Linked DNA regions of Homo sapiens. The protein of the gene in region 1 purifies or fractionates together with the protein of each later gene. This does not show direct contact. Each region holds a gene or a part of one and is shown on either strand. Other genes may lie near its edges.

What was found. Proteins that work in one complex are often made in the same cells at the same time.
Region 2: the proteins of ODAD2 (region 1) and FBXL4 purify together in Homo sapiens (affinity purification with mass spectrometry; one large-scale study listed by BioGRID and IntAct). This does not show direct contact.

What each region holds. Positions count from the first base shown.
Region 1 is NC_000010.11:27,981,925-27,985,581, forward strand, and holds part of ODAD2 (outer dynein arm-docking complex subunit 2), read right to left. Parts: intron 3,288-3,657; coding exon 3,095-3,287; intron 2,367-3,094; coding exon 2,260-2,366; intron 2,056-2,259; coding exon 1,919-2,055; intron 1,358-1,918; exon of another isoform or gene 1,272-1,357; intron 1,087-1,271; exon of another isoform or gene 1,005-1,086; intron 1-1,004.
Region 2 is NC_000006.12:98,867,880-98,871,492, forward strand, and holds the end of FBXL4 (F-box/LRR-repeat protein 4), read right to left. Parts: 3' UTR 656-3,613; downstream 1-655. UniProt on the Homo sapiens protein: Substrate-recognition component of the mitochondria-localized SCF-FBXL4 ubiquitin E3 ligase complex that plays a role in the restriction of mitophagy by controlling the degradation of BNIP3 and NIX mitophagy receptors.

The DNA of each region.
Region 1 (3,657 bases):
CGAGCCTTAGTTGATGATGTCATAAAAGTCTTCAAGGTTAGAATTTAACCGTGGAAAAGCCTACATTTCTGTTTGTCACACTCTGTTCTTCTGTCTGTGGCATGGTTGCTATAGGCTTATTTTCTAGATCTCTGTGTAACGATCTGTCCACACACCCATGTGTCTCTCTCTCTCTTCTTGTCTCTTTCCTTTCCTCATTTTCCTTTTCTTCCCTACCTCTATTGTTCTTCCATAACAGAATATATATATATAATGTATACACACATCACATAACTATATGTATATAAATACATATAACTGCAGTTTGTTATATATAACTGTATACACAAAAACATTTCTATACGTATGACCAGTGTGTTTTAAACTTTGTTGTAATTATTGAGTAGTTTTATGGTCCTTGTCTTTCATTTTTTTAAAACTTAAAGGGATACTTAGATATCTCCATGCTAAATAAGTTATATGTATGTAGATCAATAATAACCTTTGATAGAAATAAAGACTCCCTGCCCCCCTCCAGAAGGTCAAAGAAAATCATTCCTTCTTTTGTCCCTTTATTCCTAATTAGAGATTTCGTTTTTCTAAAATATCATAAACCAAAGCAAAATCTTATTTGTCTACTGCCTCTTTGTAGAAATGAGCTCAGTGTCATGCTAATAAGAAAAGCACCAAAAGGCATGTCAGAAAGATAACTATAGGTAATCAGAAAAGAGGCTCCAGCATTTTGGTACCAACCCAAGCCAACATGTAACAACCCTCCAGGCAGTCCCCCGTGATGGCTGGGTCCCCATTAAGGACTTGGATCCTCCTTGTAGAATTTTGTTTCTGAGTTCCAAATTTATGTTGAAGATACTGAGGGCAGGATGTTGCAGAGGTGAAAGCTAAGCTCCTTCTAGCTGGTTCTGTGAATAGGGATGAGACTGAAAGTGTTTTAATCCAGAACACTGTGTGCTGTTTATCACTCAGCTCAAAGCCCAGCCACCCAGCCTCTACTTTGTGCTACTCACGCAGGAATCTGCAATGTCGTATTTCTCCTTTCACCAGGCTAGGTTATTAGGCTCCGTCATTAGAATCAGCTAAAGGAAGACTGAAAGGCTGGCAGAGGGAGGAGGGACCTGCTGCTTCCTGCTGGCCCACTGTCCCTGTTAGAGTCACCCCAGCAACGGCCCTTCTTTCCACACAGTGGCAGTTGCTTCCAGTAGCAACAGTTGGTTCCAGTTTCCAGGTTTGTTGATTTTTCACGGTCCCAGAAACAGGCTCACCTCACCCCCTGGGAAATATCACTATCAGTCATCCAGTGCTCCATTTTCAAAGGTCCAGGTCCCAGCTCTGCCATCTCTACAAGGATCCTCTTCCCGAGGTATGAGCATTAACTGGGCAGTGCCCACTCTTCAGAGATCTGGAGCCCTGCCTCATGGAGATGGTCTGAACTCTGTGGGGACCAGCACAGCCTGGAAGTGGACCCTCCCAAGAGGTCTGGGTCCCAGCTTCATAGGGCACTGTCTCCTACCTTCTACATTTAGATAAGCCCCTCTCTTTCCCTTTGTCCCTCCAACTCTTAGGATGCAAGCTGCAGTTATGACATCTGTATTATCTCAATGTTTCTTTTTTGACCTTTCTATCATTTGGAAGCTGTGTAATGAATCAGTGAAGTGATTACGTTAAAGACATTTATAAAGTGGAATGGGTCACTTTGAAGCCCATTTCTTATCAGATTGGCTTAATGACCTGCAGTGGAGAATAAGAGAGCTAATTCTGAAGCTATTTTGGATTTGCCCAGCAAGCATATATCAAAGGAATCTGCTTCTATCCCACAGAATGGTAATTCATTCTCTGTGGTCATTGGGACACACCCTTGAGACATCTACAGCTAACAATCAAAGTCCACTGGCTTTAGTTACGTTTTTAAAAATTTACTTACACCATTTAAAAATACTCCTCCTGCACTGCAAGTAATGCACAGAGTCTCACCATCGTGAGGTTTCACCAGCACATAACAAATTTCCCCACGAATTTGTCTCCACGGTGGGGCTCGACATCCATTTGAAAATTCATAATCTGAAACCAATCATCAAGCAATTAACAGGAGTTCCTTAACCTAGAGTTTGGTAAAAAGTGTTGGCTTCCACAAAATAAATATTGTGGAAATTTTAAGCTTTCCCCTTCTTAAACCTTCTCTTGTAATGTAGACATTGAAAGCATTTTGCAAATGTAATTATGAAAATGTAAATAACATAAAATGAGCCTGAGAAAACATCAAACCTGAGGTATATTCAATAGATTCCAAGACTGTTTGGTTTCCTTTTCCTGAGAAACGTTTGAGCAGTTCTATATCCTTCTTCACCGTCATGGGACTTAAACTTATTTCTCTGAAATAAATGTTTAAAATGTCAGCTTAAATACTTTAAACAGAATCTAGGAAACACATGAACACATTTCATTGTATCAGGAGAAATATCTTTTTTGTAATTAAAATTGCAGTTAATTTTAGCCGTGCTATAATTTTATAACAGCACTGTCAACACATCAAGTAATTAGTGATTTATGTTTAATGCAACATTAAACGTACTCCATTAAATATTCACTTTATTTCATGCTGATAATATTCTAACACTAAAAATATTAGAAAATGAACATGCTTTGGACTATACAAACTCTACATGATATCTGCATTATAATTTAATAATTTGTGTAATAGTCTTGAGAGCATTTGAAAATAACAAGACCACCTAATGTCTTCAGAATTGCATGAAACCCCACCAGAATGTTTTCGTGATGTCACCTGCAATTTTTAATTTTTAGAACTGGAATAAATGAATCCCAGGAAAATTGTTTGTTCCAATAAAATGTAAAGTTAAATCCATAGCAATAACTTCCATACTTTACTTTTCTTGTGTCTTTTTTTCTAAAACTCTGAAAGCAACTTTGTAACTAATTTTTAAAGGTTCCTTTTTAATTTTTTAATTTTAATTGTAATATTTTATTATTTATTTAACTATCTATTTTGAGACAGAGTCTTGCTCTGTCACCCAGGCTGGAGTTCAGTGGTGCAATCTTGGCTCAATACAATAGAGGTTCCTTTTTGAAAAAGACTCACAATGAAATATGTTTTAGAGAATGATTGAGGAGGTGCAGATCCAATTGCTTAAGCAGCATAGCAATCTTCATCTTAATTTCACTTTCAGGATCATCATCTCTGGTAATTTTGCCAAGAATATTTAATGCAATTGAGTTTTCTTTCATTGTATTATAATCAGAGCCCAGGATTTTTACTATGGGGTCTCTGTTAGCTGCCAAAAAAAAAAAAAAGGAGACAAATAAAAATTATCCACTTGTCTTCTAGTACAACAAACATTAAGACTAATAAATCCTTCAAAGTCCATTCAGACGTGTTTCTTTCATTAAGCTTTTTCTAAACGACCCAATTAGAATTCATCTCTACGTCTGAGATTCCATTGCTTTTAGGAACTTTCTTCTACTTCACGAGATGCTCTAGTTTGTATTGTAACATCATCTATATATCTCCCTAATAGCACAAAGACCAAGACAGTCATTCATTCTTTCTTTTTTAATTGGCCGTGGGGCATTGTTCAGAATGCACATTCAATTAATACATTCAGAATTTATTTGAAGATGGAGAAATAGTGATCTTCTTAGAAG
Region 2 (3,613 bases), on another chromosome or scaffold:
CATGCTGCTATAAAGACACATGCACACGTATGTTTATTGCGGCACTATTCACAATAGCAAAGACTTGGAACCAACCCAAATGTCCAACAATGATAGACTGGATTAAGAAAATGTGGCACATATACACCATGGAATACTATGCAGCCATAAAAAATGATGAGTTCATGTCCTTTGTAGGGACATGGATGAAATTGGAAATCATCATTCTCAGTAAACTATCGCAAGGACAAAAAACCAAACACCGCATATTCTCACTTATAGGTGGGAATTGAACAATGAGAACACATGGACACAGGAAGGGGAACATCACACTCTGGGGACTGTTGTGGGGTGGGGGGAGGGGGGAGGGATAGCATTAGGAGATATACCTAATGCTAGATGACGAGTTAGCGGGTGCAGCGCACCAGCATGGCACATGTATACATATGTAACTAACCTGCACATTGTGCACATGTACCCTAAAACTTAAAAGTATAATAATAATAAAAAATATATAGAGAGAGAAATGAAAAAAAAAAAAAAAAGAGTTCTGTACACAGGCGGATGGCTCCTCATCTAGGCTGGTAATTTCACAGGGGCTGTGACGCAAACCTATTTACCCAAACCTTCCATTATATTCAGCAGTGCCCTGAAATGATCAATTTTGAAAGTGAACTAATGAGATACTCAAACTTATTTTATTACTCTAAAGTACAGAATACAAACAACAGAAATCATTAGATATTGAACAGCATTTTTATGTAAATAAAATTAAAATATCTCAGTCGTCTGTACAGACAACTTCATTTGTAACAGAGACTTGTTTTATCTTTAGTGTATTCTACTCTATTTATCTGATACGACTATTTTGCTTTTAAATGTTTTCCTTAAAATTTTTATAACTAATACTTCACTAATTACTTTACCAAATACATAGATTAAAATATCCCTAAATGTCAATTTTAGCAGGACTACCTTTTTCCTTTCAAAATGTAGTCAAATATACCTTTAACAGTATTCATATGCACAAAATTTAAGCCAAATATTCAAGCTTACAGGCAAAGATCTTGAGCACACTTACTGCTGTGCCAAAGGAATAATCTTGGCCCCATCCCTACTTATAAAAAATATATAATAAATCATGATCTTTGATTAAAGCAAATGACTCTTAACAGAATGTGAGCTATTGCCAAAAAAATGATTCTAACAGTTATGGTTTTACACTCACAGCCTAGGTTTCTAGTAGTATGTTGTCAAAAAAAGCAAATGAGGTGATGATTGGCAGTTAATGGTCATTGACAAGATTTTAAGGGTAGTTAAAAAAGTTTCTCTGAAGTATCAATATCAAATGTGCTAAAAGGAGAAAAGTAGATGCAGCACTGATGTGTCAAAAATGACTTTGAAAATGTAAATTCCTGTGTCTGTAATAGGTATCCTTTAATAGCTGAAAGTAACAAATGAAAAGCCAAACATTCACTATTAACATACATGGGGCCTGACACAGTGGCTTATGCCCGTAATCCCAGCACTACAGGAGGCCAAGGTGGGAAAATTATTTGAGCCCAGGAGTTCAAGACCAACATAGGCAACATGGAAAGACTGTGTCTCTATAAAAAATAAAAAAATTAGCCAGGTGTGGTGGTGTCTGTAGTCCCAGGTACTCGGGAGGCCGAGGTGGGAGGATCGCTTGAGCCTGGGAGACTGAGGCTGCAGTAAGCTGAGATCATGCCACTGCACTCCAGCCTGGGGCAATAGAGTGAGACCCTGTCTCAAATATGTAACACACACATACATACATAAATATATACACACATACATGGTAGCCAAATGGAAATTTTACTGACTCTTTGATTAGTATCATTACACTTCACATATGAGTTTTAGTCTTCAGTTAATTCCTGGGAAATGCCAAAAATAAAAATACTGCCACAGAGAAATTAGTTTTTCTCTGCTACATATTGGCTCAAAAGTAAGCACCTGAATATTAATTGTCTACATTTTGTATTTTTAAGATCTTATTTCAAAACAATTTACATTGAGAGTATTATTTATGCTCTTAAACAGGATCAGGGATATCTTTATTTCTAGACTCTGGGAAGATAATTTACCTGAGCAAAATGCAAAGATAAATAATTATACAAAAATTTAAGTCAGTTGTCAAAGCTAACAATGCATCACCTGGCTTCAAAATTTAACAAACAAAGAGTCTACATAAATATCTTTCTTGTCTACACATCTTTCTTGTTATGGTAAACATTTTGTTTTTTCTAACAAAACACTGCTCTTCATTTTAAAATCTAAATGGCAAAATGAGAATGATAACAGCGAATTAACAGGTTTGAATGTGGTTTATAAAATTAGGAATGGGCAAACATGGATTAACTGACTCGAAAATACTCTGGAATAGGGGTCACAAATTTGGTCCACAAGCCAAATCCAGCCAGCTCATAAGAACAGTTTCACATTTTCTAATGGCTGAAAAAATCTAATGGCTAACACAGTAGTATTTTGTAACACATCAAAATTATGTAAAATTCAACTTTCAGTGCTCATGAAATTTTATTGGAACATGGCCACACTCATTCGTTTAGGTACTGTCTATGATTGCTTTCACATTAGAATGGCAGAGTTGAACAAATGCAAAGGAGACTTATGTGGTGCTGTCATCATTTTGCACTGCTACTTGGCACACTAAAAACTGCAGTAATGCAGTTACCAGCATTTTGAGTGCCACATATGTTGTCATACCACAATATTTTTAAATTTTTTATTACTAGTGCTTACCCATAACATCAAAACAAGAGAAAAAAAGAAAAGTAGACTTGAAGTGACATTTTTAAGGCACATTAGTATATGAATTTTTAAAAATCAGATTAGATGTCAGAGTATGATGTTTAATATGCAATGTCATTATAGCTGTTCTTAAAGAATACTATAGGGAGGTCAGATGCAGTGGTTCATGCCTGTAATCCAAGCATTTTGGGAGGCTGAAGTGGGTGGATCACTTGAGGTCAGGAGTTCAAGACCAGCCTGGACAACATGGTAAAACCCCATTTCTACTAAAAACATAAAAATTAGTTAGGTGTGGTGGCATGTGCCTGTAATCTCAGCTACTTGGGAGGCTGAGGCAGGAGACTCGCTTGAACCTGCAGGGTGGAGGTTGCAGTGAACTGAGATTGTGCCACTGCACTCCAGCCTGGGCAAAAGAATGAGACTCAGTCTCAAAAAAAAAAAAAAACAAACTCAAAAATGAAAATAAAGTTGCAGCCAAAGTGACTCAGATGTTAACCAAGCAAGGAAAACATTTTACTAACGATAACTAAATTGTGTTTGATTCTATCGGCTGAAGGACTGTGTCCAAAGTAAACTTAAGACTATTAAATTAGCCTTTTGGCAAGAATGGTTGCTTAAAGAATTGAGAACACTGGGAACAACATCAACAGTCAATAAAAAACAAGGCAAATGACCCTGAGTGGTTTTCCTTGGCTCTTGATGAGTCAACAGATGTTACTGACACTGCCTAGTTATTGCTTATTTGATAAGTCAATGCCAACGTTGAAGTGACTGAAATTAGTCTCTATGAATTATCTGTGTGGCACAATTACAAGCATGAATATTTTATAAGAAGAAAACA